Homo sapiens: one gene and its partners. Each later gene encodes a partner of the first gene's protein in a complex. Each region holds a gene or a part of one and is shown on either strand. Other genes may lie near its edges. The genes, in order: SNRPG, PRPF4, SART1 and PRPF3.

The links.
Region 2: SNRPG (region 1) and PRPF4 share a complex: the UniProt entries of both Homo sapiens proteins name them as parts of the U4/U6-U5 tri-snRNP complex.
Region 3: SNRPG (region 1) and SART1 share a complex: the UniProt entries of both Homo sapiens proteins name them as parts of the U4/U6-U5 tri-snRNP complex.
Region 4: SNRPG (region 1) and PRPF3 share a complex: the UniProt entries of both Homo sapiens proteins name them as parts of the U4/U6-U5 tri-snRNP complex.

Annotation. Positions count from the first base shown.
Region 1 is NC_000002.12:70,290,723-70,298,286, reverse strand, and holds the start of SNRPG (small nuclear ribonucleoprotein G), read left to right. Parts: upstream 1-4,546; 5' UTR 4,547-4,637; coding exon 4,638-4,669; intron 4,670-4,828; exon of another isoform or gene 4,829-5,126; coding exon of another isoform or gene 5,127-5,134; exon of another isoform or gene 5,135-5,612; intron 5,613-6,977; exon of another isoform or gene 6,978-7,006; intron 7,007-7,564. Other genes in the region: protein FAM136A, read left to right, coding at 810-998. UniProt on the Homo sapiens protein: Plays a role in pre-mRNA splicing as a core component of the spliceosomal U1, U2, U4 and U5 small nuclear ribonucleoproteins (snRNPs), the building blocks of the spliceosome.
Region 2 is NC_000009.12:113,285,651-113,292,672, reverse strand, and holds part of PRPF4 (U4/U6 small nuclear ribonucleoprotein Prp4), read right to left. Parts: intron 6,481-7,022; exon of another isoform or gene 6,465-6,480; coding exon of another isoform or gene 6,442-6,464; coding exon 6,383-6,441; intron 5,969-6,382; coding exon 5,845-5,968; intron 4,499-5,844; coding exon 4,409-4,498; intron 2,208-4,408; coding exon 2,085-2,207; intron 1,974-2,084; coding exon 1,866-1,973; intron 1,776-1,865; coding exon 1,657-1,775; intron 1,207-1,656; coding exon 1,013-1,206; 3' UTR 1-1,012. UniProt on the Homo sapiens protein: Plays a role in pre-mRNA splicing as component of the U4/U6-U5 tri-snRNP complex that is involved in spliceosome assembly, and as component of the precatalytic spliceosome (spliceosome B complex).
Region 3 is NC_000011.10:65,964,715-65,971,736, reverse strand, and holds part of SART1 (U4/U6.U5 tri-snRNP-associated protein 1), read right to left. Parts: intron 6,646-7,022; coding exon 6,519-6,645; intron 6,396-6,518; coding exon 6,290-6,395; intron 6,036-6,289; coding exon 5,958-6,035; intron 5,851-5,957; coding exon 5,751-5,850; intron 5,662-5,750; coding exon 5,519-5,661; intron 5,388-5,518; coding exon 5,181-5,387; intron 4,479-5,180; coding exon 4,354-4,478; intron 4,267-4,353; coding exon 4,151-4,266; intron 4,059-4,150; coding exon 3,916-4,058; intron 1-3,915. UniProt on the Homo sapiens protein: Plays a role in mRNA splicing as a component of the U4/U6-U5 tri-snRNP, one of the building blocks of the spliceosome. May also bind to DNA.
Region 4 is NC_000001.11:150,345,530-150,352,551, reverse strand, and holds part of PRPF3 (U4/U6 small nuclear ribonucleoprotein Prp3), read right to left. Parts: intron 6,535-7,022; coding exon 6,416-6,534; intron 6,145-6,415; coding exon 6,061-6,144; exon of another isoform or gene 6,051-6,060; intron 3,396-6,050; coding exon 3,334-3,395; intron 1-3,333. UniProt on the Homo sapiens protein: Plays a role in pre-mRNA splicing as component of the U4/U6-U5 tri-snRNP complex that is involved in spliceosome assembly, and as component of the precatalytic spliceosome (spliceosome B complex).

The DNA of each region.
Region 1 (7,564 bases):
CCGTCTCTACTAAAAATACAAAAAAAGTTAGCCAGGCATGGTGGCGCATGCCTGTAATCCTAGCTACTCAGGAGGCTGAGGCAGGAGAATCACTTGAACCCGGGAGGTGGAGGTTGTGGTGAGCCGAGATTGTGCCATTGCACTCCAGCTTAGGCAACAAGAGCGAAACTCCGTCTCAAAAAAAAAAAAAGAATCAAGATGTTTGTACATCTTACAATAACCTCTAGGGACCTCTCATTTCCTGGAAGAATGTTCTGCCCAATTTATTCTGTCATTCACCTGCTTTCTAGTAATAGTTTGAGCCCTCCTGGTGCCATCTTCTGTTTGAGTCAAGACAGTCTTGGAAAGCCAAACACAGTGGCTCACACCTCTAATCCCAACACTTTGGGAAGCCAAGGAGGGAGGATCACTTGAGCCCAGGAGTTCAAGACCAGCCTGGGCAACATAGGGAGATCCCATCTCTACAAAAATAATTTTTAAGAAAGTATTAGCCAAGAGTGGTGGCGTGTGCCTGTGGTCCTAGCTACTTGAGAGCAGAGGTGGAAAGATAGCGTGAGCCTGGGACGTTGAGGCTGCAGTAAGCCATAATTGTGCCACTGCAGCGCAGCGCTCCAGCCTGGGCAACAGAGTGAGACTCTGCTCAAAAAAAAAAAAAAAAAAAAAAACTTGGCCAATCACACTACCATGTCCCTTTAATTGACCAAGATAATACATATTAAACCTGTAGCACAGGGCCTAACACATAATGAGCACGCAGTAAATGGAGGCCTTACTCTCAGCTTTTTCTACGTTCTTCCTTCTTGCCACAGGACCGCCTGGCCCGGTGCACCATGCATTGCAACGACAAAGCCAAAGATTCAATAGATGCTGGGAGTAAGGAGCTTCAGGTGAAGCAGCAGCTGGACAGTTGTGTGACCAAGTGTGTGGATGACCACATGCACCTCATCCCAACTATGACCAAGAAGATGAAGGAGGCTCTCTTATCAATTGGAAAATAAAAGTATTTGCCAGTGGCCATCAGGGCTGAGGGCAAGAATATATTTTTTATAAGGAATTGGGAATTTTAGTCTTTTAAGCAAAGTTTACGAATGAAGAAATGAAGGATGGCCACAAGCGTAAGGCATATGTCACTTGCCTCTGGACACTGGTTATTTTATGTTTCAGTCCCTAAAAAATGAAATGGAAAAAAGTGGTGCTAAATCGAGTCAGAGATATTACAGGAGAGTTTTAGAGCTTATTATTTCCTGTGGCCAGTGCTTGTCCTGGCAGTAAGGCTTTCCCCTGTAACAAGCCAGAGCCCTCCAAGGTACCAGACTCTTCTTACTACACAGGTACTAACAGGCTGGCAGGTTAGAGTTGGTGGAGTCTGAGGAGAGATATTTTCTCTTTGTTGCCAACATCCTGTTTACCAAAAGTGTCACCCCACCATCTTCCATAAGCTGTGAAACAAAATCAATGAGGTCACTAACTTAGAAGGGAAAGAAAGTTTTCTGGGTCTTTGTTTTCTTGATTTGGGGTAATTTATACAAGGGCATACAAGTTGATTTTAAGATGTGGAACTGGGAGGTAGACTAGTTTGGATAAGAACTTTGAAATGTTCCTTGTGGATCCCCATTTCTGGTCATCAAGATGTGGATGTACATTTCTTAAAATTATTACATGCTGCATCTTTCAGCCTGGAGACTGTGCAGAAACATGAGAGGTGATGACACACTAATTATGGGAAGCAGAATTACTGGCTGATGGCCCCTGAGGCTGTGTGTAACAAAATGACAGGACAATCTTGCAGTAACACTTTCCCCTTGAAGAGAAGGGGGTTTTGATTGTGATATATACTAGTATCTAGGAATGAACAGTAAAAGAGGAGCAGTTGGCTACTTGATTACAACAGAGTAAATGAAGTACTGGATTTGGGAAAACCTGGTTTTATTAGAACATATGGAATGAAAGCCTACACCTAGCATTGCCTACTTAGCCCCCTGAATTAACAGAGCCCAATTGAGACAAACCCCTGGCAACAGGAAATTCAAGGGAGAAAAAGTAAGCAACTTGGGCTAGGATGAGCTGACTCCCTTAGAGCAAAGGAGAGACAGCCCCCATTACCAAATACCATTTTTGCCTGGGGCTTGTGCAGCTGGCAGTGTTCCTGCCCCAGCATGGCACCTTATTGTTTTGATAGCAACTTCGTTGAATTTTCACCAACTTATTACTTGAAATTATAATATAGCCTGTCCGTTTGCTGTTTCCAGGCTGTGATATATTTTCCTAGTGGTTTGACTTTAAAAATAAATAAGGTTTAATTTTCTCCCCACTATTGAGTCTTCTTTCCTTATATCTGGGTGGTGAATATGTAACTTTCTCAGGATGCTTCTCCTTTTAACAGGTTAAATGAGTTAAAATGTCCAGAAGAGTGGAAATTAGTTGTTATGGTTCAGATGCAGAACTGGTTCACTGTAAATGGGAAAAACTTTGAGAGGAGACTAGGACATTGTGACTTGAAGTTCATTAATGTAGAAAAGAAACTGTCTATGAGGCTAAAAAGAGAAATTCATTATCTATGTCAGGTCTCTAGCTTCAACTAAACACTAATAGCAAGTGGTAGTAAAGGTACAAAGCTATGACCCTGCTAGAAAAAATTCAGTGTCTAGGATTTTGAGTACTAAGAGAGTGCAAAATATGTGATGAGTTTAAGTCTTTACTATCATTGATATTTATATAGAGCCATTCCAGAATATCAGGAATTAACTGAATTTTTGAGAACTATCCCCTATTTAAACACAAGGTATTCTATTTTGGTTTAGTCTTCTATAATTTTGGGGTAACAACTGGGAACAAGTCCGAGACCACTTTTTACACATCTTGACATGAAAAAAGAACACCTTATATTAGAAAATGTTTGTGTGCTGCACTTCACATTTTATATACAGGGGCAATAGCACATCAGTGAGTTCTGGAGGTAGTGTTTGAAAAATTTCAGAATTCCCAGGCATGCTGGCTAACCCCTGTAATCTCAGCACTTTGGGAGCCGGAGGCAGGCAGATCTCTTGAGGCCAGGAATTTGAGAACAGCCTGGGCAACAAAGCAAGACCTCGTCTCTACAAAAAAAAATTAGCTGGGTGCAGTGGCGTGCGCCTGTAGTCTCAACAACTCAGGAGGCTGAGGTGGAAGGATTGCTTGAGGCCAGGAGTTCGAGGTTGCAGTGAGCCATGATCACACCATGCTCCCCAGCCTAGGCGACAGAGCAAGAACTCATCTCAAAAAAAATTTTTTTTGCAAGACCCCTCAGTCAGAAATAGATTCAAATTCTTGGAGACAGACCCAGTCACCTTACTCTACAATGGTTCAGAGGCTGCTAATTTACATGTTACGGGAACCCTACTTGGTCTGACAGTATGCTGTAGGGTTACCTGCCAAAAAAATATAGAGGCCCAGCCGGGAGCGGGGGCTCACGCCTGTAATCCCAGCACTTTGGGAGGCCGAGGCCAGCGGATCACGAGGTCAGGAGATCAAGACCATCCTGGCTAACACAGTGAAATACGGTGTCTACTAAAAATACAAAAAATCAGCCCGGCGTGGTGGCGGGCACCTGTTGTCCCAGCTACTCGGGAGGCTGAGGCAGGAGAATGGCGTGAACCCGGGAGGCAGAGCTTGCAGTGAGCCGAGATCGCGCCACTGCACTCCAGCCTGGGCGACAGAGCAAGACTCCGTCTCAAAAAAATATACATATATAGAGAGAGGCCCATTCCTCCAGGGATCATTATCATTTGGTATATTGGTATATATGAAGAAAATAAGCGATACGATCCACAGACATGCGGGATTGGCCGGGTTTGCCCAGGAGCTAGAGACGGGACCGTTATCTCAATATCTCAATTTTATTTTTTAAATAGAGAAGGGGTCTCGCTATGTTGCACAGGCTGGTCTCGAACTCCTGGGCTCAAGAGATCCAAAGTTCTGGGATTTACGGCGCCCGGCTTTTTTTATTTATTTATTTATTTTTATTTATTTTGGCTGTTCCATAGACAAGAGCAGGGATAACCGGCTGGGCGCGGTAGCTCACGCCTGTAATCCTAGCACTTTGGGAGGCCGAGGCGGGCGGATAACGAGGTCAGGAGATCGAGACCATCCTGGCTAACACGGCGAAACCCCGTCTCTACTAAAAAATACACAAAATTAGCCGGGCATGGTGGCGGGCGCCTGTAGTCCCAGCTATTCGGGTGGCTGAGGCAGGAGAATGGCGTGAGGCCGGGAGGCGGAGCTTGCAGTGAGCCGAGATCGCGCCACTGCACTCCAGCCTGGGCGACAGAGCTAGACTCCGTCTCAAAAAGAAAAGAAAAAGAGCAGGGATACCCACCGGTGGAATACCCGTTATCTCAATTTTGTACAAGGAAAACGGAATTCAGAAAGGTGCCTAGAGGACGCACCCCTCCGTCCTGGCCAATCGCTGAGGACATAACCGGAAGCTCAACGATGACCGAGGCGCTGAGATATCGCGAGGTGAAATGTAAAAACTGCCAACAATCCATTGGCTAACGAGGTCGATGACGCCAGACGCAAGACGCCGGGCCTACAGCGGGAGCGTGAGGAAAGCCGTGCGTTGCGTTCCAAGGCATCTGTGAGCCCGCGGAGTATACACCATGAGCAAAGCTCACCCTCCCGAGTTGAAAAAGTAAGTATGTGTGAGAGCCAAACCGAAGTGGTCAGTTATTTGCGTCCTGCGAGTCCCTTGGTTCCCTCTCCGTTAGCCGAATGTCTTGAGCCGCTTCACTTCATTTCTTCTTCCGGTCCGAGGTCGCCGGGATCCCGGCCAGGCTCCCGCGCATGAGACGTGAAGCCCGCGCAGAGCTCGCGCGTCGGTGTGGTTACAGCCGGCAGCCACGGCACCTCCTTCCGGCCGACTAGTCTCCAGGTCCCGCGGTCTGGCCCCTGGTCACCCGGCGCTGTCCCTCGTTCCTTGAAGATCTCCAGTGCTACCTTTTGTTGAACATCTCGAATAGTATCATGTTCTAGATAGACGGCTAGAGGGGGAAATTCTCTGAAGGAACTAAGGAGGGGCTGGAAGGGAAGGAAGTGTTTTTAAAACTACGTGAGGCATCAGAATCCGAAAGCCACTTTAGTCTTAGCAAATGTGTTTGTAGGTGTTTGAGCTTTTACTTAGAAACCTCATTCCTTTTTCTTGCCTTCTTTTACGTTAAGCTTGAATGTCATGTGTTATCTTGCTCTGATGTTGAAACTATATAAGAACATTCATTTTTCTTTTTTTTTAAGAACATTAATTTTTTCTAGTCAGAGAAGGCTAATTTTTTGAAGTTTTTTCTACACACCCAGTAAAGTCAAACAACTTTAAGTAGGAGAGCCTTACTTTAGGTAGGACTCAACGTAAAGCTTTGAATTCCTCAAATACTTTTTGAGTGGACTTAACAGGTTATGTGTTTCCTGACTACGTTTCTGTTTTGCTTATACTTCCTGATGCTGGAATTCTACATGTATTAGTTGGATTGCACAAAGGATGCAAAATTTTTACAGGGATCAGTTTTTTCTGGCGTAGCATGTGGTTGGCTTTGTGTATAGTTAGTTCATTTATTACCAGGCCCATGGAAGTCAGACAAAAGGTAAAGTTCCTATTTAATAATTTTGCGGCCGGGCACAGTGGCTCACGCCTGTAATCCCAGCACTTTGGGAGGCTGAGGCGGGAGGATCACCTGAGGTCAGGAGTTCGAGACCAGCCTGGCCAACATGGTGAAACCCCCGTCTCTACTAAAAATACAAAAAATTAGCCAGGCAGGTGGTGTGCGCCTGTAGTCTCAGCTATTCCGGAGGTTGAGGCAGGAGAATCGCTTGAACCCGGGAAGCGGAGGTTGCAGTGAGTCAAGATCGCGCCATTGCCCTCCAGCCTGGGTAACAAGACCGAAACTCTGTTTCAAAAAATAATAATATTTTTGCATTTAAAGGTCCATTTGTATCAAAGCCATCTTTTGTATGAAAACTACTTCTATGTATATTTTAGTTAGGTCTGTTAAGGAATTAATTATTAAAACATAAGCCCAACGCGGTGGCTCACGCCTGTAATCCCAGCACTTTGGGAGGCCGAGGCGGGCGGATCACGAGGTCAGGAGATGGAGATCATCATGGCTAAAACGGTGAAACCCCGTGTCTATAAAAATACAAAAAATTACGTGGGCTTGGTGGCGGGCGCTTGTAGTCCCAGCTACTCGGGAGGCTGAGGCAGGAGAATGGCGTGAACCCGGGAGGCGGAGCTTGCAGTGAGCCGAGATCGCGCCACTGCACTCCAGCCTGGGCAACAGAGCGAGACTCCGTCTCAAAAAAAAAAAAAAAAATAGAAGTTACTCAGAAATTATTGTGAAAATTACTCTTTTTATCTGAAAGTTATTTTTGGTGATGTAAGTATCCTCTGGATTCATCAGGGACTGGTGAAATGGTGATTTTTTTTTTTTTAACAAAAAGACCATTCTCTACTTGTAATCTAAGATTTTCTTTCTGATTCATAACATAGTTTTTGAAAATTTCAGAGAAGGAAGCTAGTTTTAATACCTTTCTCTTCCTCGTAGGTTTCATGAATTGTGAAATCCGGTCAGATCTGCCGCCAAAATGACTTAAAAATTTTTTCTTCCTCTGCTTTCTCACAGATAGCATCTTCTTTTACACCATTATGCCCTCCTTCTGGTGTAGCATAACTCAGGTGTTCTTAAATGGGGAGTAGGGAATCTGGTGCTACCGGCTTCTAGTGAGTAGACACCAGGGTGCTGCTAAACATCCTACTGCTTATTCGACTGCCCCCAACAATACAAAATTAACTGGTCCCAAATGTCAGTAGTATAGAAGTTGAGATACACTGGCTTAACTGAATTCTTCCTTCCACTTCTTAAAATTTGCTGCCACGGTAGTCTTGCCAGTGACTGCTTTAATAATTTATCACAGTATGCAAAATCGAGTCTGTACTTAACCCAGCATTCAAGCACCAAACCTTCTAGCTGCTAATACTCAGGTATTCCGTTCTCCAGTCACACTGAACTATTTGTGTTTGCTCTCACTTGCTGTGTGACTTTGAAAAATTGCTTTAGCTTTTCCAAGCCTAGTTCTCCATCTGTAAAAACGGTGGAAATGATAGACCATAATTGCAAAGTCGTTGTAAAGATTGTATAAGATCTTGTGTGTTATATTTGATACGTTTTATGTATCTTATTAAAATATAGTTTACTTCATATATGTGTGTGTGTGTGTGTGTGTGTGTGTGTGTGTGTGTGTGTGTGTTTTGAGATGGAGTTTCACTCTTATTGCCCAGGCTGGAGTGCAGTGGCGCGATCTTGGCTCACCGCAACCTGTGCCTCCCGGGTTCAAGCGATTCTCCTGCCTCAGCCTCCCGAGTAGCTGGGATTACAAGCATGCACCAACACACCCGACTAATTTTTTTTTTTTTTTTTTTTTTTTTTTTTTTTTTTTTTAGTAGAGACGGGTTTTCTCCATGTTGATCAGGCTGGTCTCGAACTCCCGACCTCAGGTGATCCGCCCGCCTTGGCCTCCCAAAGTGCTGGGATTACAAGCA
Region 2 (7,022 bases), on another chromosome or scaffold:
TGTTTGACTCCTGACACAATGGTTTTGCTTTGGGGTAACATGAAGGTTGCCAAACTTCAAAGTAAAAAAAAAGATATTTTCTGACAAAGCAAATGTTCAGTTCAGAGTTGCCTGATGCTGTCAGCATTCCAAGCAAACTCAATAGGAAGAGGTGAAGTCTTCTTCACTGTATAACCATCGGCGTGGCTGCGGTCTACTGCTTCACATCCCATTCTCCAGGGAAAGGAAAAGTGCTCGCTATGATGCATTGTTTAACCAATGAGTGGTGAGATGTGCCTCTTTACCTGAGGGCTTCCAGACTATAGTTCAGCCACCTTGCTCTCTGGGTCATATGTAGTCCTGAAGCATGTACCATGTTATGGAAAGCCAAGTTTCAAGAATTAAAAATGCAGAGTCAGTCACAATCCTGGGTGCTGTGAGGAAGGCTATAAGGCATTCGAACAAATTTTTTTTTTTTTTGAGACAGGGTCTTGCTCTGTCACACAGGCTAGAGTGCAATGGCGCAATCTCGGCTCACTGCAACCTCTGCCTCCCAGGCTTAAGCAATCCCTCCCACCTCAGCCTCCCAAGTAGCCGGAATCACAGGCAGAAGCCACCGCGACCAGCTAATTTTAGTATTTTTTTGCAGAGACGGCATTTGCCATGTTGCCCAGGCTCGTCTTGAACTCCTGAGCTCAAGCGATCTACCCACCTCGGCCTCCCAAAGTGCTAGGATTACAGGCGTGAGCCACCACGCCCGGCCAAACAAAAGATTAATAAAAACAATGTCTACACAGTTCGTGGCAGGGCGTAAAAAGGTAATAAATTTTCAACCGTGAGAGGGGTTCCCCATCACCTAGGGATTGGGCTGCCTTCCTGGAGTGGGGGCTGACATGGAAATCCAATTCTACTGAGGGTCTATGCATGGTAATTGGCAGAAAACATGATAGAACTAAACACTTCAATTCTTCTCGTTTGAGGAAAACAGCTCCTTAGAGAGAGCTTGAGGTTCAAGTCCTTTTCCCATTGTCATCTATTCAGCCATCCACAGCTTGAAGGTCCTGTCATATGAGCAAGTGGCTATGAGCTGCCCATCGGAAGAAATATCTAGGCCCATCACTTTGCCTTCGTGGCCAGCCAGAGTCTTCAGCGGGGACCAGCCTGGGTGCGTCCAGATCTTGGCTGTGTTATCATAGGCACCAGTAAGCAAGAAGTTCCCATGGATAGCTACAGGAGAAGAGAAGGGGAATTGCTTGAGGAATTCAAGTATTCAAAAGAGAAGACAAAAGCACAAAAGTCTGCAAAAACATACTATTTTTAAAAAAACTTGTTTCTACAGACTTAAGGGAACAAATAACAGTAAGGTCTTTTGGCTCATTCCCTGACCGAGAATCTATTCAGAATAATATTAAGGACTCAGTGCTCAGAGCATCCATGGAGGAAAGAATGAAGCAAAGCACTCATGAAAGTCTGCTTTACTTCCTGCAACGAGAAGCGTGCTTTCCCACAGATCTAAGGGTATGGCAGAGGGAAGGAAATTATAATTTGCTCCTTTACCAGTAGGTCAATTTCTCTCCTGTTTTACTGCTCAGTTAAGCTAAAGCCTGGCCTGCATTCCACGGGAACACAATACTGTTTGTCTGTGTCATTTAGACGTAAAATAGGAGGAAAGCTTACGCTCAAACTTGACACCAGTCACTAAGTTCTGATGAGCAGGGATGGTGTAGACGCAACGCCGCTGTCGGAGGTCCCACACTTTGCAGGTGTTGTCACCACTGCCGGTTGCAATGTGATAGCTGTGGATTGGATGCAGTATTGAAGTTAGAAATAGAGTACTTACTGACCCAGAACCCTTTTTCGCCCCTCATTCAGTGTGTTTATTTTACCCATTGGGGGAGAAATTTATTCCATAGATTTCTTTCAGGTGGCCTTCTAAGAACATGATACAACGTCCTGTGCGTAGGTCCCAAACTCGACCAAATGCATCCAGTCCCCTGAGAAAATAATTTAGAAATGAACACTTTGAATCCAGTTCTCTGTGGAAGCAGGTATAGGTAAGAGGTGAGAGTACTGAACTGCCCCTGACTACATGGGAGAAGCCTTACCCAGTGCCAGCCAAAGAGCCATCTTGATGGAAGGCAATGTCATACACACCCATGCTATGGCCTTCCTGATGCAGGATCTCCTCTTGAGCCTCCAAATCCCATAAGCGCCATGAACGGTCATAGCTAAAACCAAATCACACTAACAATCAACCAGCTGATATTTATTCAGTTTCTACAACACATAAAGTATTCTAAGCCATTATAGCTTAAGTTATTAATGCTTCTGAAACTATTCATATAACCATATTAACAGGAAGCTCCTTTCTGACATAAACAATGACTCAACAACTAAGCTTATCTGCCTTAGGTGCTAGCTGAAAACCATGGAATCGCTGTAAACCTCTAGGGCTTTTTTTTTTTTCTTCTTTTGAGACAGAGTCTCACTCTGTTGCCCAGCCTGGAGCACAGTGGCGCAATCTTGGCTCACTGCAACCTCCACCTCCCGGGTTCAAGCCATTCTCCTGCCTCAGCCTTCTGAGTAGCTGGGACTACAGGTGTGCGCCACCATGCCCAGCTAATTTTTGTATTTTTCATAGAGATGGGGCTTCACTATGTTGGCCAGGCTGGTCTCGAACTCCTGAGCTCAGGTGATCCACCCACCGTGGTCTTCCAAAGTGCTGGGATTATAGGTGTGAGCCACCATGCCCAACCTAGTGGCTATTGTAATAACAGGATTCCCCAAGAATGGCCCAGCAAAGACTCTGTTACCTTCTTTCTTCCTCCACTGTTATATTCTTTCATTCATCAAGCATTTATACATTTACTAGGCCCTAAATTGGATGTTGGGGATACAAAAATCACTCATACACAAATAGATCAATGGAAGAGAATAGGAAGTACAGAAATAACCACACATATATGGTCAGATGATTTTCAACAAGGGTACTGAAACAATTCCAACAGAGAAAGGAAAGTCTCTTCAATACAAGGTGGTATAACTGACTATGCACATGGAAATAAAGACAAAAGAGACAAACACAATTTAAAAAACCAGGCAAAGCATATGACAGAGCACTCAAGAGCAATAATGATCAGGGTAATAAGAATGAAAATCACGGGAGATCACTACACACCTGCTAGATTGGGCAAAATGGTAAGACTGACAACACCAAATGTTAACAGGGATGTGAAGTAACCAGAACTCCGGGAATGTAAAATGGTGTAACCGCTTTGGAAAACTGGTGGGGAGTTTAGAAAAAGTTAAATATACATCTCATACCTCTACCCTATGACCCAGCAATTGTACTCATGTCCACAAAAAGCCTGGTACAAGAATATTTATAGCAGCTTCATTCTGACTGGCCCAGACCTGGAAACAGCCCAAGTGTCCATCAACAGGAGAATGGATAAACTATGGCACAGTCATAAAAATGAATAACCCCCAGCAATAAAAAGGAATTACTGATACATGCAACAACATGAATGACTCTTAACAATGTTATGCTGAAAGAAGCCTGCCACAAATGAATTCACAGTATGAATAGACATAATTAATTTGTGGTGATAGAAGTCAGATCAGCAGTTGCTTTAGAAGGGGGAGTTGGCTGGAAAAGGGCATGAGGGACCTTTCTGGGGTGATGGACTATTCTCTATATTGACAGAGGTGTCGATCACAGGAATGGTACGCGTTTGTAAAGACTGACAGCATTGTACACTTAAAATAAATCCATTCCATTGTATGTAAATTATAACTTAATGGAAAAGTTCTCTAACAGATTCTAGCCTCCCTGAACTTACAGAACCAGGAAGGGAGACTTATATACCTGTAGCATTGGACAAGAGTGAAAATCCTTGTTTTCTGGTAATTTGTAACTCTGAAATTTCAGATTAATTGTAATTTAAAGGCAAATATGGCTGGGCGCGTTACCTGTTATCTATAATCCCAGCACTTTGGGAGGCTGAGGCGGGAAGATCACCTGAGGTCAGGAGTTTAAGACCAGCCTGGCCAACATGGTGAAACCCTGTCTCTACTAAAAATAAAAAAATTAGCTGGGCATGGTGGCACGCGCCTGTAGTCCCAGCTACTCGGGAGGTCGAGGCAGGAGAATTGCTTGAACCCGGGAGACGGCGGTTGCAGTGAGCCGAGATCGCGCCACTGCACTCCAGCCTGGGTGACAGAGTGAGACTCCACCTCAAAAAAAAAAAAAAGGCAAATATACTTAGCTCTCACTATATTAAACATTCTCCTCTGATTCCAATTCCCTGCAGCCCAAGAAAATCCTACCTGAAGATCTCTGCTCTAAAAATTTACCTGGCAGATAGCCATAAAGGGTTAAGAAGATGCTACAGGCCTATATGGATAAAACAATAACAGGATGGCTCACCAGGTGGTGCCCAGGAAACGTCCTGAAGGATGCCACATTACCCGCGCCACACGCACTGTATGGCCTTCAATATCTGCCACTGGTTCATCACTGGAAAGGAACCAAACATATAAACAATTTTATAGACATATAAATAGTCACAAAACTGCTTACCTTCTGTGCAGACATACCCATTCTGTACAACACGAGAGGCTAAATTGTAACTACACTTGTAAACTACTTTGGCCCAATAAGCAAAATAGTCATTCTGCACCAAAGGAGTACCTGGATTCTAGAAAGAAAACATGCTTTGGAAGAGATATAAGGACACAGAAATCACATAGTTTTGGTACAAGTGGATTACAGATAAACCTTTTTCAAATTTAGGCCTGTTCCAAGATCCAAATGAAAAAGGAACTCCTAAATAGAGATGAGGCTTAGTCTCCTTTTGGTGGCCATTAAATTCTGCTACCCAGCAACCACCAAAAGATCTGAACATCAGCAAAAGGAAATAAACATGAACTCTAAGGAACGCAATTAAAAAGGGAACTTTGTCAATGTGCATACACAGAACAAGCCAAAGCCCAAGGGGAATAAACATTGCTAAGTATTACCAAAGCCAATTAAAACTCACTGCGCTCCTAAGTGAGACCCTGTCTGGTGAGGAGTGAAGACATTAATTAGCTCTCATAAAAATTCTCAAGTAAAAACCTTCATGTGTTTTCCCAAAGAAAGAAAACTAAACAATTAAATTCAGATGCCTTTTGGCCAACAGGGTGCTTCCGAAGTTTTTTTTTTTTTGGAAAACAATCACATAAACACATTTTTAAAAACTGTTGTAGTTGGAAAATACATTCTAGGTAAAGGATGATGCTATTGCGAGGAGACATCTCCGTGGTAATACTGCTAGACAGAACCTCACTTTCCTCTCCCCTGTGGCTGTTTGCTAAGAACCAACGAACTGCCAAGAATATTATATTTAGTTCATTGTTAATTTATCATGTAGGAGGTAGGCTGGATCTTTCTGGAATAAATGGAGCTAGGAAATAGTGGTCACTAGGCTATAGACAAAAATCAAGATCCAAAGTTAACAGGTAAGAAAAAACGGACATAACTCCTTTAGTAAGAAAAGGCCTAAGAATGAAATCTTCCACTTACTTCATTTTCACACTAGGTTACCTTGACTCTTAAACCATCTTGGGGGTTAAATGCCAGATTTTTTTTTTTGTTCTTTCAAGACGGAGTCTTGCTCTGTCACCCAAGCTGGAGTGCAGTGTGCAATCTCGGCTCACCACAACCTCCATTTCCCGGGTTTAAGCAATTCTCCTGCCTCAGCCTTAAGGTGTGAGCCACTGCGCATGGCCTAAATGCCAGATTTTTACTGAGGTCCTGGGGACCAACCAATCAAACATCTACTTTAGTGATGGCAGTATGGGCCACAGAACAGTGATATTCACCTGTCGAGACTCCAAAGCTTCACAGAGCCATCAGCCGCACAAGAGGCCAGGTTGACATCTTTTGGGTCCAAGGAGACAGTGGATTTGGGATGGAATACAATTGCTCCTACATTTGTGTTATGCCCTAAAGGAGTGTAAGAGATGCAAGTTAAAAGGTTCCTGCCTCTTTATAACCCATGTTATATACTAGGGAACATGTGGACATACAGAGTATTCAAGTGACTATTCAACTATTAAAACATGAACTATTTTAATTTAAGCTAATATTTAAATTACATTTTTAAAAAAGCAAAACACAAAAAAACCCATTTTGGTTTTTGGTTTAGAGATTATAAAATGCCAGAGTGTGACTGCACATGAGAGAAAAGTGGATGTGTAGGAAGTTGTGATAGTCCAGTCTTGCAGCCAGAGAAAACCAAGTCAAATCAAATCAAGGATTAATGCTGTGTGTATGGGGTCTGAGTGTCAAGCAGAGTTTAAGGCTTAACTGAGTTCACACTGGGAAAAAGACCGAGATTTGGATAAGACTCTAACTTACCTCGAAGAGTGTGAAGGAGGTTGCAATCAGGAACAGACCAGAGCTTGCAAAGCCCACTCCTATCAAATACAAAGGAAAGCATCTCAGCCAGGGTTGGTCTGGGAAGGAAAAGGTACCTTGGTAATATTACTAAAGGACAATCTCTTCTCACCCCCAATAAACTTTACAATGGCTGACAGAAAAATAAAAGCCTTATAGTTAGAAGGGTTATAGAAGAAAAAGCTACCTCCAGCCCACACGCAACCAGAGGCTTTTACTGGACTATAATTAACACTACACCAGTAGCCATTCTCCTTAACTTTTGGATCCACTTGTGAGGGAAGGTGGGGCAAATTAAACTATCCAATAATACGAATATTAATAGTGATACTGTCCTTAAATATGAATAGTATTTTGCTGATTACAAAGTATTTAAATTTTTTTTTTGAGAAACAGTGTCACTCTGTCACCTAGGCTGGAGTGCAGTAGTGTGATCACAGTTCACTGCAGCCTCAACCTCCCAGGCTCAAGCAATTCTATCACCCAGCCTCCTGAGTAGCTGGGACTAACAGGCGCATGCCACCACACCTGGCTAACGTTTTAAAAAATTAAATAAATTTTTAAAAATTTTTTGGGCCAGGCGCTGTGGCTCACACCTGTA
Region 3 (7,022 bases), on another chromosome or scaffold:
AAACCCTTAACTGCCTTGTCCCTCCTCCCTAGAAAACCCAATCCTCAATCCCACCATCCACTGCTTCAGGGCATTAATCCCACCATCCCCCTCCTCAGCTCCTGAATCCCACCATCCCCCTCCTCAGCAGCTCCTGAATCCCACCATCCCCCTCTTCAGCAGCTCATGAATCCCACCATCCCCCTCCTCAGCTCATGAATCCCACCATCCCCCTCCTCAGCTCATGAATCCCACCATCCCCCTCCTCAGCTCATGAATCCCACCATCCCCCTCCTCAGCAGCTCATGAATCCCACCATCCCCCTCCTCAGCAGCTCATGAATCCCACCATCCCCCTCCTCAGCAGCTCATGAATCCCACCATCCCCCTCCTCAGCTCATGAATCCCACCATCCCCCTCCTCAGCAGCTCCTGAATCCCACCATCCCCCTCCTCAGCAGCTCATGAATCCCACCATCCCCCTCCTCAGCTCATGAATCCCACCATCCCCCTCCTCAGCTCATGAATCCCACCATCCCCCTCCTCAGCAGCTCATGAATCCCACCATCCCCCTCCTCAGCTTCTGAATCCCACCATCCCCCTCCTCAGCAGCTCATGAATCCCATCCCCCTCCTCAGCAGCTCATGAATCCCACCATCCCCCTCCTCAGCTCATGAATCCCACCATCCCCCTCCTCAGCTCCTGAATCCCACCACCCCCCTCCTCAGCACCTCATGAATCCCACCATCCCCCTCCTCAGCAGCTCATGAATCCCACCATCCCCCTCCTCAGCTCATGAATCCCACCATCCCCCTCCTCAGCTCATGAATCCCACCATCCCCCTCCTCAGCTCCTGAATCCCACCATCCCCCTCCTCAGCAGCTCATGAATCCCACCATCCCCCTCCTCAGCTCATGAATCCCACCATCCCCCTCCTCAGCTCATGAATCCCACCATCCCCCTCCCTCAGCAGCTCATGAATTCCACCATCCCCCTCCTCAGCTCATGAATCCCACCATCCACACTGCCACTGGCAGGCCTGCTCTTCTCCCAGGGTGTATCTGCTCTCCACTCTCCAGAACAGCATCTCCCATCTCTTTGCACCACCACCTCTGCCACCTCTTCACTGGAAAAACACCAGAACAATCGGCCATGGGCTGCCTTGACTTCCCCTAAACAAGGTCACCCACAGCTGCTGTGCCCTCCCCACCTTCCCTCCTGAAATAAATGATGACACGAGCTGGCTTCACTCAAGCCCACCCTCCACTTGCACTCTAGGCCCCAGCACCGCCTGCCGAGATCTTTTTCTTCTTCCGTCATAAATGTGTCTCCCACATACTCTAGAATCTCCGGTAGTCAGAAAAGGCTCCTTTGCGGGTGGGAAACTTGATTGGATGCTGCTTACAACAAAAAACTAAAAAGACATTTTGGGGGATAACTGGAAAATGTTGGCATGCGAGCTGCTGTTTTACAGCATTTATGGGCTTGTTAGGGCAGTGTGGCTATGCGGGAGAAGGCCCTGATTTCGCCAGATGCCTACTGAAGTCGTTAAGGATGCAGTGTCATGATATCTGCAACTCCCAGTGGTCAGGAAAAAAAGAAGAGAAAGAAAAGAACTGTAACAATGTTTATAATTACTGACTCTAGAGGACAAAGGTGTTCACTGTGATAGGCTTTCCACTTTTTTGCCTGCACAGTGTGTGGGGTGTGGCTCATATGTTTAAAAAACCTTCTAGGTGGCCGGGTGTGGTGGTTCATGCCTCTAATTCCAGCACTTTGGGAGGCTGAGGAGGGTGGATCACAAGGTGAGGAGTTTGAGACCAGCCTGACCAACACGGTGAAACCCTGTTTCTTCTAAAAAATACAAAAATCAGCTGGGCGTGGTGGCATGCACCTGTAGTTCCAGCTACTCAGGAGGCTGAGGCAGGAGAATTGCTTGAGCCCGGGACATGGAGGTTGCAGTGAGCCGAGATCGCGCCACTGCACTCCAGCCTGGTGACAGAGCGAGACTCCGTCTCAAACAACAACAAAAACTTTCTAGGCTACACCAGGCCTGGTGGCTCATGCCTGTAACCCCAGCACTTTGGGAGGTGGAGGCGAGAGGATCGTTTGAGCTCAGGAATTTGAGACCAGCCCGGGCAACACACTGAGACCCACAGGCGCACGCCTGTAGTCTCAGCTACTTGAGAGCCTGAGGCAGGAGGATCCCTTGAGCCCAGGAGTTCAAGGCTGCAGTGAACTATGATTGCACTACTGCACTCCAGCCTGGGCAACCGAGCGAGACCTTGTTTCTTAAAACAACAACAAAAACAACCTCCTAGGTGAGTCTAATGTGCAGGCAGGCTGAGATCCACGGGGCTAGAAACCCTTATGTTCATTTCAGTCATAAAACAGCCCTGTCAGCCTATTGCTCCATTTCTCTGTTCCTTTTTAGCCGGGCAAACTATGTCCCAACACCTGTTCTTAGAAATAAAGTATTACTGGAACCCAGCCACGCCCACTCACTTACAGACTGTCTTGGCTGTTTTCCCTATAACAGCACAGCATTCAAGGTGCCTAACAGAGACCATATGCCCTTAAACCTCAAATACGTCCTCTCCAGCCCTTCAACAGTAAGCCTGGCCTCCGTCCCGGGTTCAGCCCTCACTTTTTCAACTCCCCTGTCCTCCGGGTCCTGAATCCACTGCAACTGTCCCCACTTTGCCTCCCAGTAGTATCAGAAGCTTCCCTCCCTTGCTCCCTCTCCTGGACACGCTTTCTTGGCTTCTTCCTAGGTGAGAAGTGTGGGGTAGGGCTAAAAGTGTGGCCTCTGGAATGATGGAGATGACAGAACCTTCCTCATAGGGTGTTGCTGGGAGGATGGAATGAATCAACAAACACAGAACATGTGAGCAGTGCCCGGCCCACTGTGCCTCTGGGGCAGCGACGACCATGGGGTCAAGGCTCCCCCTGCGTTGGCCCCCTACCTCTCCATCTCAGCTCACGCCACCCCTCACTCTCTGCTCTGCTCCAGCCTCCCTGGCCCTCAGGCACTCTAAGGTCACTTCTCCTGAGACACCTGCTGGTTGGTCTACTGCCTAAATGCCAGCCTGTCCACCTGCTGCCACCCCTAACCCCCCGCAAGGCTGGCTCCTCTGTGTGACTCAAGTCTCAGATGAACTAGTACCTTGGAAAGGTCTTCCCTGCACTCTCCCATCTAAGATCCCAACCCCCGGCACGTTATCTTGGTTTACTGAGTGCCCAGCTCCCACCACCATCAGAAATTACCGTTCCTGCATTAACAGTCACTGCTGCTCCCCACGCTCTCCCCCACACACTCTAGAAAGCCAGCTCCATGAGCCCAGGGCCCCATGGCTATCCTGTTCACCAATGACCTTCTCAGCCCAAGAACAATGCACTACTCACAGCAGGCATTCAACAAACATGCACAGAAGAGAGAGGCAAGGAAAGGATCCCCTACTAAAGCAGGCATCTAAAAATTTTTGCAAAACATGACTTTAAACAGAATAGAGGGCTGGGCACGGTGGCACACACCTGTAATTTTAGCATTTTCGGAGGCAGAGGCAGGCAGATCATGAGGTCAGGAGTTGGAGACCAGCCTGGCCAACATAGTGAAACCCCGTCTCTACTAAAAATATAAAAATTAGCCGGGTCTGGTGGCGTGCGCCTGTAATCCCAGCTACTCAGGAGGCTGAGGAATAAGAATCACTTGAGCCTGGGAGGCGGAGGTTGCAGTGAGCTGAGGCTGCGCCACTGCATTCCAGCCTGGGCGAAAGAGCGAAACTCTGTCTCAAAAAAAAAAAAAAAAAACAAACCCAGAAAACAAAAAACAAATGGAAAAGAGGCTTCAGACAGGAATGTGGCTGTCGCCTATGACACAGGTGCTCGTGAGGACAGGTGACTGCTGACGCAGTCACCCTGCCCATGCCCAGCCTCACCTTCTCGCCACTGTCTCGCAGCTGCTGTAGCTGCTGTAACTGTCGCAGCCGGCGTCCCTTCTCCAGCTGCTTCTGCAGCTCCAGCTCCGCCTCGTCCTCCTCCAGCACCTGCGGGGACCCCGGCGGTGGAGCTCCACCTTCCTCTGGGGGAAACACAGGGGATGCCTGCTCAGACCATCTCCTCCAACCCGCGGCTCCTGTCCCTGCCCCTCCCACCCCCTGGCCGGGCCCTCACCCTCATCACTGATGTCCATGTTCTCCACTCGGGTGTCGTCCGACGGCAGGGGCTGAGGCACAGGCTCCTTCTCCTCCTCCACTTCGGACACTCGGCGGCGACCCCGTCCCCGCAGTCTGAGGGAAGGAGGCCTCTCTGGTGAGCACCGGTCCCCAGGCCACCCCAGCCCAGCCATCTCGCCCCACCACCGTGTCCAAGCCCACCTGGAACCAAAGTCCCCATCCTGAGTCTGGTCCCCGAGAGGCAGCAAGTCATCTGCCCGCACTACTACCTCCTTCTCCTTCTTGCGGATTTTCTTCACCCTCCGCTTGGTCTTTTTAAAGGTCACCTTAAGGGAAGAGGGGCGAGACATGGAGCGGGGGCCACAGAAAGGCAGGTCGCCACAAGCCCTCGAGGGTGAACACTTCTTTGGTGTTCCTCTGTGCTAGCCAGCGTCCTGAGCGCTTCCCACACATGAGCAACATGTGGGGTGGTTACTATCTCAATTCCACTGGTGAGCTAGGGAAACTGGGGCACAGGGAGGTTAAGTACCTTCCCCAAGGTTGCCCAGCTCCTAGGTGGGAGAGCTGGGCAGTCTGGCTCCAGAGTCCTGCTCTTACCCACTGAGGAAGACGCCTACCGCGCCAGCTGTCTACCTCACGTTCACACAGTCACCCTGTGGACAGAATCCACGCACACCTCTCCAGTCACCCCTCACCCACGCTGTCACTCATCCTCACAGCAACCTCAGGAGGCGGCTCCTGTCACTGCCATTCCAGATGGGGTGCCCCAGGCTCACAGTTAAATGGTTTATCCAAGGCACGAGCTGGCAGCATGGCAGAGCCGAAACAGACTGGGGCCCATCTGGCTCAGCAGCCCTGACCCATCCACACCTGGTGCCTCCCCCGGTTGCCATTTAGTGCTCACCCGCGAGGCCAAGCGCTTTGTGAACACAAATACTCGCCCTGTCTTCTCAGTGCCTGCGGGCAGGGCAGGAGCCCCAGAGGGAGGGAGAATCTTGACCCCGAGTATAAGGCACGGGAGGGCTCACCATCTCCTCAGGCGTGAGGTATTCGGAGGCCAGCCGGGGCCCCACTGTGCTCAGGGACTGAGCCTGCAGCCGCAGCTTGGCCCGGATCTCCTCCAGCTCCCGCTCCCGCAGGCCATCAGCCGTGCCGCCCTGCTCCAAGCGGAAGGAATGTGGCCGCTCCCCTTCAAGCTCTTCGTCATACTTGGACAGGATAGAGCGAGGTTTTTGCTGCAAGGCAAGAGGTACAGGTTGGGACCCAGGCTGGCTCCTGAAAAGCCACTGAGCCACCACCTCCTCAGAGCCCCCATTCCCGACATTCTCCACCTCAGCCCCCGCCACCCAGCCTGCCCAGGCCGTGCCTGCGCCAGGTCGTCCACGCTCTCGTCCTCGGCATAGGGCAGGTAGTCAGGCTTCTTCTTCCGCAGCTCCACATTTTTCTCTGCCCGCTCCTTATCCACCAGGTTCACGTTCACCAGCACGTCCTCCTCCTCCTGCAGCACGCCTGGGGGCAGCACAGAGCAGTGGCCATTCACACTTGTCCGCAACTCAGCAGAGGCTGTGCCCCCACCCAGGGCACCCAGCTCGCATTACCTTTGTCCTTGAGGGTAAGAATCATTGTCTCCCCTTCTCGGAAGGAATCAATGGCATGCTCCACGGTGAGGCCCTGCAGGTCCCGGGCACTGTACAGGTCCTAAGGGAAGAATCGGCGAGTCAGGAACCTCCCTCCACGCACCCAACCTCGGGATTCCGGTAGCAAGGCCACCAGTGTCCCCTGTACCACCCCTGCTGCAGCCTCACCTGCCGCCTCTGCCCGAACTCCTCCTCCACCAGAGTGCTGACACCAAACTCTTGGTCCATCTCCTCCAGTAACTTGGCCTACGGGACAGGGAGGGGTGACCTAGGACTTCAGGCCACTCAGCATCACCAGAAAACACTCAGGGCTCTACCAAGCGGAGTGCAAAAAGGGCAGGCCTTGCAGGAAAGCTGCTGAGAATCCAAAGTAGATGCTACCGACCACGGCCCTTCCCTTCTCCAAGCCCCGTCTCACCTCTCTGGGGTTGGCCCCCGCCTCAGTGCCGTCAGGCCACCAGAAGCACTAGGCGACCACCCCATGCTGCCCAGGTGCTCACCCTCTTCTCTGCCAGGTCCTTCTCCTTCTGCAGCTGCCGGCTCCTCTCGATCCAGGCTGCAGTGTCGTCCAGCCAGGGGTCATCCTCTCCTAGGGTCTTTATCTTCCTGAAGAGGGGAAAAAGTGATGCTCAAGGAGCCCAGCTCCTGCTCCCCACCCCACTCAAGAGGCAGCCAAGGATGGTGGCCTCCCCAGCCCTTCCCTTGCCTGCCCTGGCCAGGACCCCTCACCCCAGCTTTTGGTTCAGCAGGCGCTTCTCCTTGGCAGCCGCCAGCTTCTCCCGCAGCTCCTCTCGCTGTCGCAAGGCCATAGGGTTGATGACATCAGCTGTCACGGGCTCCTCCTTGGTGCCCGCCTCTGGAAGGGGGGCCCAGACGTGAGGCTATGCCCGCCCATGGCTGGTGGGGAGAGGAGGGAGCCACTCACCCTGCCCCCTTCCAGCTCAGGGGGCCAGAAGGGGTCAGGACAGGAAGGAACAATCCTTCACCTCCCTGCTCCCACTTCGTCCCCACACTCCTGGCCAACCCATGCAGCACAACAGGACCCTCTGTGGCTTCCAAAGCCCCTCAAATCGTGCTTTAAAGAAAAACAAGAAACCCACCCCCGCACAGCGCAGTCTGCAGCAAGTGTGCACATCTTCCAGTCCATCTAACAACTCACAGCCAGAGTGAGTATGCGACGGCCACAGCTCCAACTCAGAGAGCAGGCGGAGCCCCAGATCCCCATTATACCAG
Region 4 (7,022 bases), on another chromosome or scaffold:
CTGGGACTACAGGCGCCCGCTACCACGCCCAGCTGATTTTTTGTATTTCTAGTAGAGACGGGGTTTCACCGTGTTAGCCAGGATGGTCTCGATCTCCTGACCTCGTGATCCTCCCGCCTCAGCCTCCCAAAGTGCTGGGATTATAGGCGTGAGCCACCGCGCCCGGCCTCCTTGGATATTTGTATGAGATTTTACGAATTCATATGCATAAGGCTTTTAGTTTTTTGAAATGAAGTGAGGAATTATTTGCTCTGGTGCCTGGGTGGAACAGCAAGTCAGGAAGAACTATGGAAGGTGGAATGAGATAAACTTATCTCCTACCAGGCCTTAAGGACTAAATCTGAGCCTTCAAAAAGGCCCCAGAAACTATTTATATAAGCAGGAGGCTTTGGGGCCCAGCAACAAAGAACAACTGGGGGCGGGGAACAGAAGAAGAGCAGGTACCAGCAGAGAATTACAACAGAAAAAGACAGTACTGGGCAGAATGGCATTCTTGCCAAAGTTACCAGCAGCAATGGCAGTCATAAAGCAATACCTCAAGAGGCGTTCAGGGAGTAGACTCCAATAAGGAGGCTGGAGCAGAACTTGGCTTATTTCTGAACATGAGAGACAATTCCTGAAAACTAAATTCCTACAACATTAATACTGGTTCTCTAAGAAGCCGGGACTTTTTCAGTAAGTACTCTTCAGAGATAAATAGAAGAAAATTGAAAGATGAGGGTGCTGAGATATGTGAAGGTAGGGCTGGGCACAGTAGCTCATGCCTATAATCCCAGCACTTTGGGAGGCTGAGGTGGGAGGATCACTCAAGGCTAAGAGTTCAAGACAAGCCTAGGCAACATAGTGAGATCCATTTCTAAAAAAAAAAAAAAAAAAAAAAAAAATTAGCCAGGCACAGTGGTGTGGACCTGAGGTCTCAGATACTTGAGAAGCTGAGACTGGAGGATTGCTTGTCCCTAGGAGTTCAAGGCTGTAGCGAGCTATGACTGCGCCACTGCACACCAGCCTGAGCAATAGAGCAAGACCCTATCTCTAAAAAAAAAAGTTGATTAAAAAAAGATAACAAATATGCAGGTGGGAACTTATAAAACAGAGAACAAATACTATGGTTATTATCATCTAATTTGTATGCATAAATTGAAGAATCTGGGATAAGGCAGGATACATGAAAACCTTTTTTTTTAATTTTTATTTTTTGATTGCTCCTTCAGAAGAAAAACTATTAATAGCAATTACCTATAAAGACTGGTCTGAAGAGATCAGCGAATAGGAAGAGACTTTTGTTTTGAGACACAGTCTCGCACTGTCACCCAGGCTGGAGTGCAATGGTGCGATCTCGGCTCACTGCAACCTCCGCTTCCCAGATTCAAGCGATTCTCCTGCCTCAGCCTCCCAAGTAGCTGGGATTATAGGCACTGGCCACCACGCCCCACTAATTTTTGTATTTTTAGTAGAGACTGGGTTTCACCATGTTGGCCAGGTTAGTCTCGAATTCCTGACCTCGTAATCCGCCCACCTCAGCCTCCCAAAGTGTTGGGAGTATAGGCATGAGCCACTGCACCTGGCCTGAGACTTTTTCTTTTTTTTTTTTAAGACAGGGTTTCACTCTGGTGCCCAGGCTGGAGTGCAGTGGCATAGTCACAGCTCACTGCAGCTTCAAACTCCAAAGCTGAAGCAATCTTCCCACCTCAGCCTCTCAAGTAGCTGGGACTACAGGCAGACGCCACCAGGCCAGGCTAATTTTTGTATTTTTTGTAGAGACGGGGTTTCGCCATATTGCCCAGGCTGGTCTTGAACTCCTGAGCTCAAGTGATCCAACCACCTCATCCTCCCAAAGTGCTGGGATTATAGGCGTGAGCCACTGTGCTGGGTCTCAGTAAGTACTCTTCTGTATAATTAGAATTTGTTTCTAATCTTAATAAACATTTACTACTTTTGTAATAATGTACCACTTTTATAATAAAGAATTCATTAATAGAAATAAGCACATTTTACTGCTCGCTTCAGCAGCACATATACTAGAAATAAGCACATTTTAAAAATAGAAGATATATGGCCGGGCGCAGTGACTCATGCCTGTAATCCCAGCACTTTGGGAGGCCAAGGCAGTCGGACCTCAGGTCAGGAGTTCGAGACCAGCTTGACCAATATGGCGAAACCCCGTCTCTACTAAAAATACAAAATTAGCCAGGCGTGGTGGCTCATGCCTGTAATTCCAGCTACTCGGGAGGCCGAGGCAGGAGAATCACTTGAACCCAGGAGGCGGTGGTTGCGGTGAGCTGAGATTGCACCATTGCACTCCAGCCTGGGTAACAAGGGCAAAACTCTCTCAAAAAAAAAAAAAAAGAAATGGAGGGGCTGGGCACAGTGGCTCATGCCTGTAATCCCAGCACTTTGGGAGGCCGAGGCAGGCGGATCACCTGAGGTTGGGAGTTCAAGACCAGCCTGACCAACATGGAGAAACCCTGTCTCTACTATAAATACAAAAATTAGTCGGGCATGGTGGCGTGCACCTGTAATCCCAGCTACTTGGGAGGCTGAGGCAGGAGAATCGTTTGAACCTGGGAGGTAGAGGTTGCGGTGAGCCGAGATCACGCCATCGCACTCCAGCCTGGGCAACAAGAGCAACAAGAGCGAAACTCCATACCGCCCCCCGCCCCCCCGCCCCCAAAAAAAGATATACATGTACTATACCTAAAAGCAAACATGAAAACATTAATACTGGTTTTAATACTGGTTCTCTAAGAAGGCTTCAGGGGTTAAAGAACTAGATAACCATAAAAAATATTCCACTTGAAGAGTGATTCAGTCACATTTTATGAAGCACTATCACATAATTATCTAATTTCATTCTCAAAAACTTGACAATATAGAGAACAATAGCTAAGGCAACAGAATTTGACATTAAGTGTCTTGCCCAGATTGCACAGCTAATAAGCAGCACTGCCCAGCCTCCTAACTTTATATTCTTAAGTCTAGTACTTCCTTCACTATATCCAAAGGTAAATCCAACAACAATTCATTCCCGTTTCCAAGTCTCATATTCATGACTGTGAAATAAATAATTTTCGGTAGAGAATTTGTATTCCTGCTACCAGCAGCACTGTCCACGCACTTCCCCAGATAGCATATACTAAATACTCACGAATTTAATTAAACAGATGATCAGGAAGAATTTACTGCCAACCATTTAAAAATGGATTCCAAAAAGAAACATAAATTATTTAAAACATTATTCACTGATTACATCTTACATTCCATTGCTCCACTCAAATAGTATAAATATTCAGGAGTTGGCTAAAGTTTTACAATGTTTTACAAAGGATCACCTACCTCCCAGACTAGTACACATTTGTTGGTTTTCTTCACAGCTTCCTCATCAGACTCCTCATCATCTGGAAGAGAAATCTTGTTACAGACTTAGACTTGAGATTCAGGTTCTAAACAAATAATATTCAAGTCTACCCAAACTCTCTAAAATATTATCACCCTTTTTATGTGTTGGACCAAGTGTTCTCTTTTCTGTTGCTCTTTATTTTCCCCAAATTAGACTTGAAGCTCCAAGTAGGCAGTAATATTAATTGATACAATTAGCATTTACATAGCACTTGTTATGAATCAAGAGCTCCACCAGGTACTGGGAATAAGGAAATAAAAGACAAGCAGTCAAGAATAAAAACTTGTCCTAGGCACTTTGGGAGGCAGGCTTCATATGTCAACATCATATATTACTCTCAAAAAACTTTCACCCAATGGAGGAGGAGGGCAGATATACCAAATCAAAATTATCGGCCAGCGTGGTGGCTCACGCCTGTAATCCTAGCGCTTTGGGAGGCTGAGGTGAGTGGATCACCTGAGGTCAAGAGTTTGAGACCAGCCTAGCCAACATGGCGAAACCTCATCTCTACTAAAAATACAAAAATTAGCCAGGTGTGGTGGCAGGTGCCTGTAATCCGAGCTTATCAGGAGGCCGAGGCAGGAGAATCACTTGAACCTGGGAGGCGGAGGCTGCAGTGAGCCAAGATGGTGCCACTGCACTCCAGCCTGGGCAAAAGAGCAAAGACTCCATCTCAAAAAAAAAAAAAAAAAAATGCACGTGTAGAACAAAATATTTTTTATTCTCAGGTATCTTAAGATGAACTCTCTGCAGATTTTATTTATATTTTTATTTTTTTGAGACGGAGTCTTGCTCTGTCACTCAGGCTGGAGTGAAGTGGTATGATCTCAGCTCACTGCAACCGCTTCCTGGGTTCAAGTGATTCTCCTGCCTAGGCCTCCCGAGTAGCTGGGATTACAGGCGCACGCTGCCACGCCCAGCTCATTTTTGTATTTTTTAGTAGAGACGGGGTTTCACCATGTCAGGCTGGTCTCAAACTCCTGACCTCAGGTGATCCACCCGCCTCGGCCTCCCAAAGTGCTGGGATTACAGGCATAAGCCATCACACCAGGCCTCTCTGCAGATTTTAAATGCTAATCCAGGTGTTCAAAGATGAGAAGAATGAACACTAATGGGAGTATGATGGCCAGAAGAATGTCTGGCCTTCAAATATAGACAGACAGTCCTTGACTTACAATTTTTTGCCTTGAGTATAGTGTGAAAGTGATAAATATTTAGTAGAAAATGTACTTCAAATTTTAAATTTTGAGATTTTCCTGGGCTAGCAATATGCAGTAAAATACTCTTACATGAGATAAAAATAGGCTTTGTGTTAGATGATTTTGCCCAACTGTAGGCTAATCTAAGTATTCTGAGAAAGTATAAGGAAGGCTAGGCTGTTATGATGTCCTGTAGGTCAGATGTATTAAATGCATTTTTTTTTTTTTGAGATGGAGTCTTGCTCTGTCGCTTAGGCTGCAGTGCAGTGGTGCGATCACAGCTTACTGCAACCTCCGCCTGCCAGGTTCAAGCGATTCTCCTGCCTCAGCCTCCCGAGTAGCTGGGATTACAGAGGTCCACCACCACGCCCCGAATTTTTGTGTTTTCAGTAGAGACGGGGTTTCACCATGTTGGCCAGGCTGTTACGAACTCCTGACCTCAAATGATCTGCTCGCCTCGGCCTCCCAAAGTGCTCAGATTATAAGTGTGAGCCACCGTGCCTGGCCTTAAATGCATTTTTGACTTAACAATATTTTCAATTTATCTCAGGTTTATTGGAACTAACCCCATCATTAAGTTGAAGAGCATATGTGTGAGTATGTACATGTACATGTATGTGTGTGTATTGTGTGTATGTGTATGTGTGTGTACATGTGTGTATGTATGTGTGTGTGTGTGTATGTATGTGTATGTGTGTATATATATATATCAGACAAAAGAAATAGTTTGATCAAAGCAGAGCTTTTTTGACCTGAAGATCTTTTTGGCTTCAATCCTTAAAAAAAAAAAAATCAAATAATAATATAATATAGACACTGTACACATGAATGTATAGCTTACTAGATTTGCTTTTTCTTTTTTTTGAGACAGGGTCTCATTCTGTCACCCAGGCTGGATTGCAGTGGCACGATCACAGCTTACTGCAGCCTCGACCTCCCCAAGCTCAAGTGATCCTCCCACCTCAGCTTCCTGAGTAGCTGGGAATACAGGTGTGTGCCACCACATCCAGCTAATTTTTGTACTTTTTGTAGATATGGGGTTTCACCACGTTGTTTGCCCAGGCTGGTCTCGAACTCCTGGCCTCAGGCAATCTGCCCGCCTCAGCCTCCCAAAGTGCTAGGATTACAGGCATGAGCCACCATGCCTAGCTGCTTGCTGAATTTTCAAATACTGAATAAATTCATGTAACCGGTACTCAGATCCAGGACAGACACAGAAACCAGCTGGTAGAAAAGCCTTAAATGATAGGCAAAAAAATAGCTTTACCATTCATGCATATAATCATGTAGTAAATATTGTATGAATGTCTAGGAGGCTCAAAGTCTAAACGGGTCTTTCTAAAATTCCTGAACACTATCTAGTGTTATCAAGAGTGTCACAGGGAGGAAATAAGATGAACGGACAGATGCACCATCCCCACCTCCCATAGCTCTCCCCCTTAATCCCCTCTAACCCCCATTCACCATCTCCCTTTGTGTTAGATGTCTGTTCATCCCACTTTATCCGATGCAGCATAAGACGCTTAAATTTCTTCTGGGCCTTGGGGCCTGGAAACAGAGAAGAATAATTTTGCCAGAACTGTGGAAGATGATGGGGTAGAAAGAACCTCTGAGCTCAGACATTAATGTGGTAGTTGAAGCAATCTCAGGAACCACATCTTAGGGCCTTCTACTCCAAAAAACACAGAAGCAGAGACCTAGCATATTATATCAGGTATGGCACTAAAATACGATCTTTTTCTCCTTTCTCCCCACAATGCTAATCACTCTAAGCCTAGGGTTGTCTGGGGACAGTCTCCCTCAAGTTTTTCAGACTCACCCCCTTCCACTACTACCACGTTGACATCCTTGTGCAGTACCACCACCCCTGTCAGGTACAGTTGCCCAGCATTGGCTTCAATCTTGAACTTCTTGGCTGGGTTGCTCAAATTTCGAACTCTGGAGAAGGGAAAGTTTAGTTATGTCTTCCATTTTAGCATCAGCAGCTGCCTGAATGGAGTGGCAAGTAAAAAGATGAATCCAAAATGGTTTCCTCTCTATAAACAAAGGCCTCTGGAGTAAACAAATAGATGAATGCTTAAAAGGTAGAGTTGATGAGTCTAGAAATATTTCCACACTCTTACATTTCTTCAAAGTCTAGCACTTTACATTAACCATTACATTACTAACCAAAGTTTACTCTAAGAGTCAGGGAGAGGTATTTACTATCATCCAAAAATACTTACAATCTCATTGTTCTTGACAATGTAAAGACCTACAGACTTTTTGTCCTCTAGACCCTTAGACTCTTATAATATAGGATTACTTGGCTGGGTGCGGTGGCTCATGCCTGTAATCCCAGCACTTTGGGAGGCCAAAGTGGGCAGATCACGAGGTCAGGAGTTTAAGACCAGCCTGGCCAACATGGTGAAACCCCATCTCTACTA